3 linked regions of the Homo sapiens genome follow. The protein of the gene in region 3 interacts with the protein of the main gene of each other region in a pairwise test. Each region holds a gene or a part of one and is shown on either strand. Other genes may lie near its edges.

Region 1 (4,927 bases), on a different chromosome or scaffold from region 3:
ATGCCAGTAGCAACCCCCATCCCCGCAAATTGTGTAAACCAAAAATATATACACACATTGCCAAATGTCCCATAGGACACAAAATCATATACCCATACGCTAACACACCCATACACTAACACCACACGCATACACACACACACACACACACACACACACACACACACTTTAAGACTCGCTGCTCTGGCCAGGCGTGGTGGCTCACACCTGTAATCACAGCACTTTGGGGAGCTGGGGCAGGCAGATTACTTGAGTTCAGGAGTTTAAGACCAGTCTGGCCAACATGGTGGAACCCCCTCTCTACTAAAAATGCAAAAATTAGCTGGGCATGGTGGTGCATACCTGTAGTCCCAGCTACTCTGGAGGCTGAGGCAAGAGAATCGCTTGAATCTCGTAGGCAGAGTTGCAGTGAGCCAAGATCATGCTACTGCACTCCAGCCTGGGCAACAGAGTGAGACTCCATCTCAAAAAAAAAAGAATCACTCCTCCATAGGAGAGAGGCAGTGTATAAAATAATCTTTTTTCTAAATTGGTTGTGCATTTTAAATAGATTCCTGGCTGGAAACAATGGCTTACGTCCATAATCCCAGCACTTTGGGAGGCCAAGGCAGGGGGATTGCTTGAGCTCAGGAGTTTGAAACCAGCCTGGGCCACATGGCAAAACCCCGTCTCTACTACAAATATGAAAATTAGCCAGGCATGATGGCACACGCCTGTAATCCTAGCTACTTGAGAAGCTAAGGTGGGAGGATGACTTGAGCCCAGGAAGCAGAGGTTGCAGTGAGCTGAGATTGGTTCACTGCACTCCTGCCTGGGGAACAGAGCCAGACTCTATCTCAGAAAAACAAAAACTAAATAACTAAATAAATAAGTAGATTCTAAGATTTTACACACATTGAATCCCGTGTGTTACTGGTTTGTTCCCTACATGGAGTAGACAGGTTTTCTCTTTGGCCTTCACGGAAGCTCAGACTGTTACTCATTCTACTTTCTTGTACTCATGCATTGCTAATAGTTTTCATCTGGTTATTAATTCAGTAGCAGGCCGTTAAGCATGTTCACTCGTGCTGAGATATTTCTTAGTGAGCTCTCACCACATGCCCTGATGGTGAGCAGCCTCACCTCTTAAACAGGATTCCTGCATGGTTGAGAACCCGTCCACCTTTCTCGGCTTGTTATGATCAGAGCTTACACTTTTGGGAGGTAGAACTGCATCTGACATGGAGGAACATGGTCCTTAGAGTCAGACAGACCTGGATTCAAATCCCACTTCTGCTTACAAGCCAGATAGCCTTGGACTGATGATTGAACCTGCATGCCTCCGTTTCCCCTTATGAACATGGGGATGATTTTGTCTACCTGGCAGGGTTCTGCATGGCCTTAGCGAGATCACGTATGTCAGACATCAGTAAATGGTAACTTGTTATCTGTCAGTTGATAGCTGTAAGGTATGAATTACCATCTTTGTAGGTCAAAAACCATCAAATATTGGCAACTTCGTACAATTGGGCCTAATATGTAAACCCCAGGTCACCATCACGCTGTCCTCTTTGCTCTATGGATATCCAGCAGATGAAAGGGATGGTTCTGCTTTGTTATTTTCTTGTTTTCCTGCTTCTTCTGAGGGGGCTTCCCGCTGGCACAATCTAACAAACTTCAGAGAGGACGAAGTCAGTCTCTGCTGTCATCAGTGTTCACAGACAGTAGTTTCAAAGTGTGTACCACATGAAGTTGCAGTCTTCCAACCTTCCAGCCAGTGTGTATGGAAATAACCTGAATTGTATTAATAGCAGTTCTTCAATGTGGGCCTGCTGGGGGATGCTTGGTTGTTTTCCGTTGTTTGTTCCCTGGGTGCCCGTCTTGGGCAAGCATTTCTCTGATGTCTCTATTTATGTGGCAGGTCACCCTGCTGATTGCCTTCATCTGTGTGCGGAGCTCCCTGTGGACCAACTACAGCGCCTACAGCTACTTTGAAGTGGTCACCATTTGCGACTTGATAATGATCCTCGCCTTTTACCTGGTCCACCTCTTCCGCTTCTACCGCGTGCTCACCTGTATCAGCTGGCCCCTGTCGGTAAGAGAGTGGTCTGGCCCTGTCCTCCGCATGCACAAGTCAGGATGTTAGCTAGAGTACTGAGACCTGACAGAGTTTTTCCCGTCTGCCCATCTCACCTCTTTAACCATTCTTTGCTGCCTCTGCCCTGAATTTCCTATTGTTTGGTGGACATCTCTGCTTGATGTCCTGCTGGTTTTTAAAACTCACTTTCCAGCTACAAGAAGGCTGTGGCTGGCCGGGCGCGGTGGCTCACGCTGGTAATCCCAGCACTTTGGGAGGCTGAGGCGGGCGGATCACGAGGTCAGGAGTTCGAGACCACGGTGAAACCCCGTCTCTACTAAAAAATACAAAAAATCAGCCGGGCGTGGTGGCGGGTGCCTGTAGTCCCAGCTACTCAGAGAGGCTGAGGCAGGAGAATGGCGTGAACCCGGGAGGCGGAGCTTGCAGTGAGCCGAGATCGAGCCACTGCACTCCAGCCTGGGTGACAGAGCGAGACTCCTCTCAAAAAAAAAAAAAAAAAAAAAAAAAAAAAGAAGAAGGCTGTGGCTATTGCCCCATGCTTACTTTCTCAAGCAACAGAGAATGGCTGTGTGTGTATGAGTTGGGAAAAGGAACACGGAAGGAAATTGTAGGTGAAGATGATGGGTATTGATGCTGTTGTGAGGATTGAATGATAGGATTTTCTGGCTAAAAGAGACTAGTGGGGGCTGAGGAGACAGTCAGAAGTTGCCAGACTTTTTCTTCCCACTGTATTATTTTTTAAAGCTTCATTGAGATGCAGTTCATATGCCGTATTGTTCACCCATTTCAAGGGTACAATTCAATGGAGTTTAGTATATTTCCAGAGTTGTCCAACCATTACTACAGTCAACTTGAGAACATTTTCATCATTTCAGAAAGAAATTCCATACCTTTTAGCTGTCACCTCCCTACCACTCATCCCTCCAGTCCTAAGCAATCACTAATCTTCTGTCTCTAAAATTTTTCTACTCTGAACGTCTCATGTAAATGGAATTGTATATGTGGTCTTTTGTAACTGGCATCTTTCACTTAGCTGAATGTTTTCATGGTTCATCCATGTTGTAGCAGGTATCAGTATTTCATTCCTTTTTTTCTTTTTAGAGACAGGGTCTCACTCTGTCACCCAGGCTAGAGTGCAGTGACGTGATCGCGACTCACTGCAGCCTCAACCTCCCAGGCTCAGGTGATCTTCCCACCTCAGCCTCCCGAGTAGCTGAGACTACAGGTGCATGCCACCACACCTGGATAATTTTTGTGTTTTTTTTTTTACAGAGATGAGGTTTCATTGTGTTGCCCAGGCTGGTTTCAAACTCCTGGCCTTAAGCAATCCTCCCACTTTGGCCTCCCAAAGTGCTGGGATTACAGACATGAGCCACCATGCCAGCCTTTTTATAACCAAATTTTATTCCATTGTGTGGATAGACCAGACTGCATTTTGTTTTTCATTCATCTTCAGTGGACCTTTGGGTTGTTTTTACCTTTTGGCTATTATGAATAATGCTGCTATGAGCATTCATATACAAGTTTTTTGTGTGGACATATTTTCATTTTTCTCTGGTATGTATCTAGGAGGGGAATTACTGAGTCATATGGTCACTTTGTGTTTAATTGTTTGAGGAACCGCCAGACTGTATGCCAAAGTGGCTCACTGTTTTACATTCCCACCAGGAGTGTATGAAGGTTCCAGTTTCACAACATCTTTGCCAACACTTATTATCTGACTTTCTGATTCCAGCCATTCTAGTGAGTGTAAAGTGTTATTTCCTGTGGTTTTGATTTTCATTTCTCCAGTGACTAATGATGTTAATCATCTTTTCATGTGCTTTTGGCCATTTGTATATTTTCTTTGAAGAAATGTCTATTCGAGTCCTTTGCCTATTTTTTAATTAGGTTATTTGTCTTTTCATTATTGAGTTGTGAGAATTCCTTCTATAGTCTGGATAAAAGTCCCTTATCAGCTATATGACTTGAAAATATTTTCTCCCATTCTGATGTTTTTCACTTTTTTGATGGTGTCCTTTAAAGCACAAGTTTTTAATTTTGATAAATTTAGTTTATTTATTTTTTTTCTTTTTTAGCTCACGCTTTTCTTACATATAAGAAGCCATTTCCAAATTCAGATTGTGAAAATTTACTTCTATGTTTTCTTCCAAGAGTTTTATAGTTTTAGTTTATACATTTAGGTATTTGATCCATTTTGAGTTAATGTTTTTTGCATAGGGTGTGAGGTAAGGGTTCAATTTCATTCTATTGCATGTAGATATCCAATTATCCCAGCATCATATGTTGAAAAGACTATTCTTTCCCCCATTGAATGGCATTGGCACCCTTGTTGAAATCAGTTGACCATTAAATACATGGATTTAGTTCTGGACTCTCAATTCTATTCCATTGATCTATGTGTCTGTCGTTATGCCATTATCACACTATTTTGATTACTGTAGCCTTGTAGTAAGTTGTAAAACTAGCAAATATGCAGCCTCCCAATTATTCTTCTTTTTTAGGATTGATTTGGATCGTTACAATTCCATGTGAATTTTAGAATCGGGTTTTCAATTTCTACAAAAATCAGCTGGGATTATAATAGGAATTATGTTGAATCCATAGATCAATTTGGAGAATATTGCTATCCTAATAATATTGTCTTATCCATGAACATGGGAAGTTTTTCCATTTTTTTAGATAATCTGTTATTTCTTTCAATGTTTTGTAGTTTTCAGAGTAAAAGTGTTTTTTGTTTGTTGCTTTGTTTGAAACAGGTTCTTGCTCTGTTACCCAGGCTGGAGTGCAGTGGCAAGATCATAGCTCCCTGCATCCTCAAACTCCTGGGCTCAAGCAATCCTCTTGCCT
Region 2 (4,927 bases), on a different chromosome or scaffold from region 3:
GTGATCTATGGAGGACTGGCTCACTCTAGAGAGGATGGGATGATGCTTATCAGTCCTTTGGCCTCTGCCCCTTGTGCCAAGTCTTGAGAGGGCTGATGCATAGCCAGATAGGCAGGCCAAGCTCCTTGAGGCTAGACCTAGACTGCTGCTGGGCTTTGCAAAACCCAACTGGGGATGGGTCCTGGGCTGCTCTCTGTGGTTCTGAAGCACCATCTCCCGCCAGTGTGGCTGCTCCCCCTTAATCTGCATCTCTGGTGTCTCCTATACAGCCTCTGCCAGAAATTCAAAAGCAGAGAGGGCTTTTATTTTCTATCTTCCAAAATAAATTTCAAAGTATTATTGGCAAACTTGAATAGTGACTTCTGTTTCATAATTTTTCATCGCCTTTTGGTTTCATCTTTAGACAGTTTTTTAAGTTATAAGAACTTTTCTTCCCCTGAGAAGTTGACGCACATAAACCCCCTTGTTTGCCACATTAGTGGCAGATCCTACTTCCCCCTCCCCGATTCCTGCAGGGGCTCTCCAAAAACCCAGCCTGAAATCTAAGCATTAGGAAAGAGCCCAGCCAATCACATCCCAGTGGTATCCCCACCCTTCTTCACCTCTCCCAGACTCTAGCCTTGCCCCACCCTCTCAGCCACCAGAGACACTCACAGGGAATCTTGTTTATCTCATTGAATAACTTCTCCTTCAGTTTGGCAAACATGTCCTCCTGGCTCTCCCCAGCACCCCCACTCTCAGTGGAGTTGTCCACGGGTCCAATGGGCATCGTGGCGGTGGTGGTGGCAGGAGCCACAATAGGCTCCTGGTTCCTCTTGAAAATGTTCCTCATGGTGGCAGAGGAAACAGCTGGGGACGAGAGGTGAAGAGGGCAGGGTGAGCATCCAGAGGTCGTCTTACCCTGAGAAAGCCCTGCCCAAAGGACCAGGAGAAGCTCTTTATAGATCAAAGATATTTTGCATAATATTAACAACTGTAGTAAACCAATAATAATAGACATCATCCAATTAGTACACAGTCAGCCTGAGCAGCATAGCAAGACCCTATCTTTAGAAATTTTTTTTTTTTAGTTAGGCATAGTGGGGGCTGAAGTGATAGAGGATCACTTGAGTCCAGGAGTTTGAGGTTACATGAGCTATGGGTGATTAAGTAAGGTTCTGTCTCTTAAAAAAAATAGTACATATATGTGCCAAGCACTGTGCAAAACACTTTCCATGCATTATTCATCTAATCCAAAAAATAACCTAATGGTTTTTATTGGTTCCATTTAACAGATGGGGAAACAGGTTCAGAGAGGTTAGATAGTTTTTCCAAGGTCACTTAGCTGTAAGTTCTGAAACTGAGGTTTGAACTGGTCTGCCCAACTCCAGAGCCTGTATAGCTAATCACTCTCCTATATCTCATTGAAATCTAACCTCACCACTCTAGGAAGGAGACAAGGTTTTACACTGAGGGCTCCTCTTTCAACCTCTCTCCTTGACTTCCAAGGATTTCTAGATACTACTCTGCCTAGAATCTCTGCCCAGCTCCATGACACTTGACTCTCCTCATCCCTGACTCCAATTCCTCCTCCTGCCCCGCGAGACTCCTCAGCTCTCTGCGGTTTCTTCACGGGCTCCCTCAGTGCCCACTCAGGGTTTGTTTTGACCTCTCCTGTAGGAAGACGGCACCCACATCTCCATCTCTAGCCCTTCCTCCCCGGTCTACTCTGTGGCCCCTACTCCAGGTTCATCTCTAGCCCTGCCCCCACATGCAGCTGTAGATTAGCCTTCCCGCATCAAAGATGTGATGTTTATTAATAACATAACCCAGACTTACTGTAGAAAATTTGGGGAGAGAGAGAGAAATCCCCCCATAATTCTACCCTCCAAAGTCAACTAGCATTTGGGGCATTCTATGCTGGTATTTTTTCTGAGTATGTTTTACATGTTGAGACCATACTATGTATAGTTTTTTTTCAAGATTTTTTACATAAAATTTCATCATAAGCCTTTTCCTTTATTGTTTTTTATTATTAAATAGCTACATAATATCCTACTATATGGTAACACCATAATTTTTTTAGCCATTCCACTGGTAGACATTTAGGCAGTTTTCAACTTTTTCCTAGTAAAACACTGAGCATAAATGTTGGTCTTCATTTAAGGCAATGTTCTTACGAGCTTCCAAACTCTGCCCCCCATAATTCTGTCCTCTCCACCAAGCTCTTTCTGCTCCTCAGGGCTATGCACTTATTTCTCAACTGAAAGTCCCATGAGGGCAGATCCTGTGTTGGCAACAGCACCCCTTGTGCCAAGCACACAGCGGGCACTCTGGGTATTTGTTGACTGGGCTCCTCTGAGGGAACATAGCAGCATACACCCACAGGTATTCCAGGATGCAAGAATAAACAGCACAACTCCCTGAGGCATCCGTTTTACTGAATGGCAATTTACAGTATTTTTAAATTAAAACAAGCTGGAAATAATAGAGTAGGATGCATACAGCACAAGAATTTAAAGAAAAAATGTGAGACTTTTCTCACTGCACGTTAGGTATGAGTTAACTCTCCTCTAGACTCAGGGTTCTTCTGAAGGAACATTTTAGGAGCTCTTAAGTTCTGTCCCTTCCTTTAAAAACCTGCTGAGATCCCCTCCCCAGCCCTGGAGACTGCTCCAGCCTTAAGTACTTCTGGTGGCCTGTACATTGATGCAATGTAGGTTCATTCACCAAGCATTTATTTAACTCTTACTGTCTGCCATGTTGAAATAGCCTTGACCCCAAAACTGGTCTTGAAGTGAAAAACCAAGGTCCACTGGACTTCGCCTCTGGGGACAAAGAGATGGGTCCGGTTTGGCGGGAACTGCAAGTAGCCACACAAAGGGATAAAGATGTGTGTCCAGGGCCTTCCGCCATGTCCATCTCCCCTCACTTCTACCACACTGTTCAGGGCTCTGTGACCTTTTTTTTTTAAAAAACAGCTTTATTGAGATGTAATTCACATATGTCACCCTTTAAAGTACACAGTTCAGTGCATTTTATTGTATTCACAGAATAGTGGAACAATTAGCATAACCTAAGTTAGAACATTTTTGCCACCTCAAAAAGAAACCCAGTCCCATTAGCAGTCACTCTCCATTCCCATCCTCTTCCCAGCTCCAGCAACCACTAATCTACTTTCTGACTCTATAGATTTGTCTATCCTAAACATTTCCTATCAATGGAATTATAAAATATGTGGTCTTTGTGACTGGCTTCTTTCATTTAGTATGATGTTTTCAAGGTTCATCTATGTTGTAGCATGTATCAGTATTTCATTCCCTTTTTATTGCCACATAGTATTCCATTGTGTAGATAGAAAACATTTTTTTTTTTTTTTGAGACAGGGTCTCACTCTGTCACCCAGCTGGAGTGCAGTGGTGCAACCACTTACTACAGCCTCCACCTCCAGGGCTCAAGTGATCATCCCACCTCAGCTTCCCGAGTAGCTGGGATTACAGGTGCATGCCATCACACCAAGCTAATTTTTTAATTTTTTGTAGATATGGGGTCTCCCTATATTGCCCAGGCTGGTCTCGAGCTCCTGGCCTCAAGCAATCCTCCCACTTCAGCCTCCAAAATGTTGGCATTACAGGCATGAGCCACCGCACCTTGCCTAGAACATATTTTATATTTATCCATTCATCAATTTATAAATATTTGGGTTATTTCCACTTTGGGCTATTTTATAACTAAATATAGCTAATAATATCCCACTTGTGGGATATTATGAATAATGCTGCTATGAACATCCATGCATAAGTTTTTGCGTGGACATATGTTTTCATTTCTCTTGGGTATATACATAGGTATGGAATTGCTGGGTCATAACTATGTTTGACATTTTAAGGTGCCAGCACCAATTTATGTTCCCACCAGCAATGTATGAGGGTTCCAAGTTTTCCACATCCCAGACAACACTTATTTTTTTATTATACTTTAAATTTTAGGGTACATGTGCACAATGTGCAGGTTAGTTACATGTGTATACATGTGCCATGTTGGTGTGCTGCACCCATTAACTCGTCATTTAACATTAGGTATATCTCCTAATGCTAACCCTCCACCCTCCCCCCACCCCACAACAGGCCCCAGAGTGTGATGTTCCCCTTCCTGTGTCCATGTGTTCTCATTGTTCAATTCCCACCTATGAGTGAGAACATGCGGTGTTTGGTTTTTTGTCCTTGCGATAGTTTGCTGAGAATGATGGTTTCCAGCTTCATCCATGTCCCTACAAAGGACATGAACTCATCATTTTTTATGGCTGCATAGTATTCCATGGTGTATGTGTGCCACATTTTCTTAATCCAGTCTTATCATTGTTGGACATTTGGGTTGGTTCCAAGTCTTTGCTATTGTGAATAGTGCCGCAATGAACATACGTGTGCATGTGTCTTTATAATCCTTGACTTATAATCCATGACTTATAATCCTTTGGGTATATACCCAGTAATGGGATTGCTGGATCAAATGGTATTTCTAGTTCTAGACCCCTGAGGAATCGCCACACTGACTTCCACAATGGTTGAACTAGTACAGTCCCACCAACAGTGTAAAAGTGTTCCTATTTCTCCACATCCTCTCCAGCACCTGTTGTTTCCTGACTTTTTAATGATCGCCATTCTAACTGGTGTGAGATGATATCTCATTGTGGTTTTGATTTGCGTTTCTCTGATGGCCAGTGATGATGAGCATTTTTTCATGTGTCTTTTGGCTGCATAACTGTCTTCTTTCGAGAAGTGTCTGTTCATATCCTTTGCCCACTTTTTGATGGGGTTGTTTTTTTCTTGTAAATTTGTTTGAGTTCATTGTAGATTCTGGATATTAGCCCTTTGTCAGATGAGTAGATTGCAAAAATTTTCTCCCATTCTGTAGGTTGCCTGTTCACTCTGATGGTAGTGTCTTTTGC
Region 3 (4,927 bases):
AGCTCAGCAGAATGCTAAGTAGTTATTTCAGTGGTGCTGATTGATTTGCAGAGATGGCACAGATGTGACCTCCTCAGTCAAAGTCAATGTTTTCTTGGCCCTCAAATTTCAGAAAAAAATACAAATATAAATGATAAATAATGACAAGGCCCAGATATAGCCTCAGAGTCATTGCCTCAACAATTATTAATGCCTGCTAGGTTTCTAGTACCTTGCTAGAGTCTGACAACAACATAAAAATCATCTAAGACCTATCTCCTGTTCTCTACAATACTCATAACCATAAAGTTGCAAAAAGTATGTAGTTTTAAAAATCACAGCGTGGAGAGGTTTCTTTGCATCATGTATTTTGCTTTTTCAACTAAAAGCTAACAGACAAACATAAGTGTGCCTTGTGCCTAGTCTTCTTTTTGCCTAGAATGTCCTTCTCTTCTTCGTCTTCCTGGAGAGCCTCCATATGTAATTCAAAGTCCAGCAGAGCTGTCACCTCAATGACGTGAAACATCACTGGCCATGCCCATCCGGCAATATCCATCGCTTTCCTTTTATACCCCACTACATCATTGCAATTCATGATACTATTGTAGCTGCCAATGTATGTGTCTAGCTGTCCCACTCAATGAACTCCTGTGGTTGACAATCTTCTAGACTATGGCTCATCTTTAGAAGCATCTCTGGGTAACTTTTAAAAATGCAGAAGTCCAGGTTCCAAACCAAACCCATTGACATAGGATTTCCAGAATGTTGGCCTGCACATCTTCAGTTTACTCTCCACAGATAGTGTTGAGTTGCTACCAGAACACAGAAGCACTTGCTGCGTCTGATTCCTCTTTATAGTTTCAATGCTAAGCCCAATGTCTAGCACAAAGCAGTGCTCACATCATGCTCGTGGACTGAATGAATTGGTTGCATCTGCTTTATTCCTTCTTGCAGGTAAATATCTAAATTATCTGTGGCAACAACTTGGTGGGGTCAACTCGAATGTTTTTGTCGGCTGTTCTTGAAGACTTCTGGGTCTCTACAACCACATTCTTTGGCTGGTGCCAGTGTTTAAGCACTCTGGTAGGTGAAAATATTTCCTTTTGAACAGTGATTATATAAAGTTTTGAAATAAACAAGTTAGAATTTAGAAATAAGAGGGATTTATTGCCAAAATGTGACAAGTAAATAAAAATTAGTTGTAAGCACTTCTCTGTATATTCATACATATTTCCAATTCAGAGTAGAAAAAAAAATCACATTACAGCTTGGTGAGAGAACCAAGTTCTAATGTGGCGTTAGCATACAGAGTCACTTTTATTCCTGACTTGGCTCTCCTTATTTTTTGTTTCTAATGTTTTGGTAAAATTTTGTGACTATTTGTCCCTTCCACTGATTTCTAGTAAGACTTTCCTGAGTTCAAATTTACCTATGTGTTCTCAAGATGCATTATTGGAAGGGAGATGAATTTGGTATTGCCGATAGTTACAAACAGCTGTTACTTCGGCTCCACTCAGGAATAATCTATATACACATTCCTGCAATTGAACACAGCTACTGATCAGTATATAATCCAATTGATTGATGGATCTCAGTGCCTCTTCCTTCATGGTGAATGGAACTAAATAAATAGATAAAATGTGCATTGCACCATGACATGAATTTCTTCCTTTGGTTCCTTATTTTCTATGATGCAGAAACTGCATAGCAGCATGTTTGAAGGTGGCCTGTCAAATTTGGGAAACTGACGGTGTGACTGAGCTAGTCACAGGGGTCTTCACAGAAAAGGCAGTCGGGGTCCTGGTCAACTGGAGATTCCATCTGAATGGTGAGTGAGTGCATCGTAAAGCTTTTGCTAAGGGCTTTAGCAATTTCTCTCCGAACCACTTGGCTGTCCCGGCTGGCTGCTGTTGATAAAGAAGCACAGGGAGATTAGCACTGATTGCACACGCATGGGCGACTGCTCTGACTCCAACTTCAAGTACTTTGTCTTTGACCTGCTGGGGTGGGGCAGAGGCAGGGCACTCAGAGGAAGCCACGTTTGCTCTGATAATCAGCTACATTCACACAGACAAGGCAGGGGAAACTCTAGTGCAGCAAAGTGCCCTGTCGCTATGGGAACTCTTTCTGTCCACTGTTATCTCTGGAGTCTGGCATTCCTAGGAGCTTACTATGGAAGGGGAGACAAGCCCTGGAAAAAGCCAAGACAGAACTATTATTTCTTATACAGCCCTGCTCACCAGCTCCCAGGGATCTCTGGGTTGCAGGCTTTGTATGTAATCAGAATTTATATCAAGGATAGTGACAGGAACCAGGAAGCGTTTAGAGCTCCCCACAGACCTTTCTTAGAGCAGCAACCCTCACTGCCATTTTTTTCCTGTCCCAAATGCTATCAGCAGGCTGTAAAGTCTCCTCCATAGCAACCTGAGTGTTTACTAGATTCTTCCATTTGCAGTGAAATATTGGCATAGTGAATGCTGTAAATTCCCTCAAGTCAGACCTAAGCCCCTTCGAGAAGATGACGATGTCTGAGAAAGCACAGTTTTCAAATGACTGTCACTAGTGTTCCTGTCCCCTGCCCCTAAGTAACTCCTTGAGTCATTTTTTAGCAGCCTAATGTGTTATCCTTGGCCTGAGCTTTCTCTTGAGGCAGTAAATGCCCTCCCACTGCCTATCCTCCCAGCTCTAGGACATATCAGAGACAAAATTAACTTCTTGAAAAAGTAATTTTAGTATAAACCTAGTATTATAAGAATTTTCTCACATGGCTACAGAATTTCTAATCATACAGTGTGGGACCCCACCATAATTCCTATTAGCACATCCATTAGCTTGTTAGAAATTTAAGAGTGGGGCTGGTGTCTCTTTCATCTTCCTATTTTCAGTGCCAGGAAAAACATCTTATACATAGGAGATACTCAATTAAGATTAAGTTTTTAATTCATTCCTATTATTTGACTGATAGGGCACCAAGCCAAACAGATGAAGTTGAATATTCAGAGTCCAAGGCCTTGAAGTGGCGGGTGCATTTTAGTCCTTTGTTCTGTCTGTCCTCAGCCCTCTGCAGTCAGCCCCAAGAATGTCGTGGGTATCATTGTTGCTATGACAACATCAATAAGTGGGCTGGTTTCAAAGGCCCTTGGTAATAGAAAACACTTTATAATGTTTTGACAAGCAACAGACAATAAGGGCAGCTCTACAAAAAGAAGGGAAATTACTGACTTTACAGGACAAGGACTGAATTTTTTCCAGGGTGTTTACAAAACTCACTGACCTGTAGCAACATGAGCTGAGAGAATTACTTGATTCATTGTTAGAGACCAGATGTGCAGGCTGTGCACAGACAGCACCCCGTCGACTGCTAAAATAAGCTCTTTCACACCACTGTAATTCAGGCTCTTTGGCACACCTGACAAAAGGGAAGAGATGGAGGCTGTAGTTATTCAACTAGATACAGCTCATTGAATTACCTAAACAAGCTGCAAAGTCCTCACCAAAATTTCAATGTGTTCATCCCTTTGCTGGTTTCTTACTTCAAATGTTTACAAATAAGATTTACCTGACTACTTCAAGGTTTACCATCAATCAAAATTTCCCACTCAGAATACTTGCAGAATTTACTATGCAATAACCAACAATGGTAATTATCCTTAGTTTTTATGGTATACTATTAAACTAACTGTGCCTTTTCCAACTATCTTTATATACACTCTGGAAAGTAAAATGAAATAACATGAAATTTGGTATCAAATAATCATGGGTTAGCATCCTGACGACAACTATTGTGAATTTACCCAAATCCCAGAACTTCTCTGACCCTCAGCACATTTGTAGTAAAATAAGGGTGTTAAGAACAACACATAGATCACAGAGATCTTTGAGGAGCAATTCAGAAAATATCTAATCATTATGAACAGCAATGTTGTACAAAGATTAGTTACTCAACAGGTCATTTAGTGAACTGTGCTAATAGAGGATCCTAACATTGTATAATACCATCTTATTCGGTTTGTAAGTTTTCTATTATTTTAGCTACATTGGAGGATGCTGTAGAAGAGATGTCTAAGTACAGCCCTTTTTTAGCCTCTACTTCAGTTATGTACAAACAACACAAACACCTGGGGTGTTTATTAAAAATAAATGTACCACGACTCCATTCCAGACCTAAAAGGAAATTTCTATGGATGAAGCTCCAAAATCTAGAGTCTTTCAGAGTGGTTTTCAACCTTGGATGCACATTAGTATTACCAGAGGAGATTTTAGAAATCCTGATGACTAAGTTACACCCAAGACCAATTAAATCAGAATCTCTGTGGATAAGGCCCAACATCAATGCTCATTTGGTGATTCTATCAGGCAGCCAAGATTGAGAACCACTGCACCAACATTCATGAGCCACTGAGCAGCTCTGCTTTGCAGTGGTTCTCTAGTCTGACTACATGTTTTTAAAAATACCAAAGCCAGCCCCAACCCCAGACAATTAAATCAGAATCTCTGGGTGATATAGTTTGCATATTTATCCTTGCCAGTGTCTCATGTTGAATTGTAATCCCTAATGCTGGAAATGGGGCCTGGTGGGAGGTGTTTGGGTCATGGTGCCAGATCCCTCATGGCTTGGTGCTGTCTTTGCGATGATGAGTGAGTTCTTGCAAGATTTGGTCATTTAAAAGTGTGTAGCACCTCCCTTGCCCTTGCTCCATTCCCATCATGTGACGTGCCTTCTCCCCCTTTGCCTTTTGCCGCTATTGGAAGCTTCTTGAGGCCTCCCCAGAAGCAAATGCCACCATGCTTCCTGTACAGCCTGCAGAACCATGAGCCAATTAACCTTATTTTCTTTATAAATTATCCAGTCTCAGGTATTTCTTTATAGCAATGTGAGAACAGCCTAATAACACTGGGTATGGGAGGCCTGAGCATAAGCATTGTTTAAAAGCTTCCCAGAGGATTA

What was found.
Region 1: the proteins of SLC30A8 (region 3) and CMTM7 interact in binary tests that used the Homo sapiens proteins (3 or more experiments, as listed by UniProt).
Region 2: the proteins of SLC30A8 (region 3) and SYT2 interact in binary tests that used the Homo sapiens proteins (3 or more experiments, as listed by UniProt).

Annotation. Positions count from the first base shown.
Region 1 is NC_000003.12:32,439,940-32,444,866, forward strand, and holds part of CMTM7 (CKLF-like MARVEL transmembrane domain-containing protein 7), read left to right. Parts: intron 1-1,900; coding exon 1,901-2,074; intron 2,075-4,927.
Region 2 is NC_000001.11:202,604,941-202,609,867, forward strand, and holds part of SYT2 (synaptotagmin-2), read right to left. Parts: intron 4,001-4,927; exon of another isoform or gene 1,004-4,000; coding exon of another isoform or gene 833-1,003; coding exon 655-832; intron 1-654. UniProt on the Homo sapiens protein: Exhibits calcium-dependent phospholipid and inositol polyphosphate binding properties. May have a regulatory role in the membrane interactions during trafficking of synaptic vesicles at the active zone of the synapse.
Region 3 is NC_000008.11:117,169,495-117,174,421, reverse strand, and holds part of SLC30A8 (proton-coupled zinc antiporter SLC30A8), read right to left. Parts: intron 3,389-4,927; coding exon 3,254-3,388; intron 1,887-3,253; coding exon 1,741-1,886; 3' UTR 1-1,740. UniProt on the Homo sapiens protein: Proton-coupled zinc ion antiporter mediating the entry of zinc into the lumen of pancreatic beta cell secretory granules, thereby regulating insulin secretion.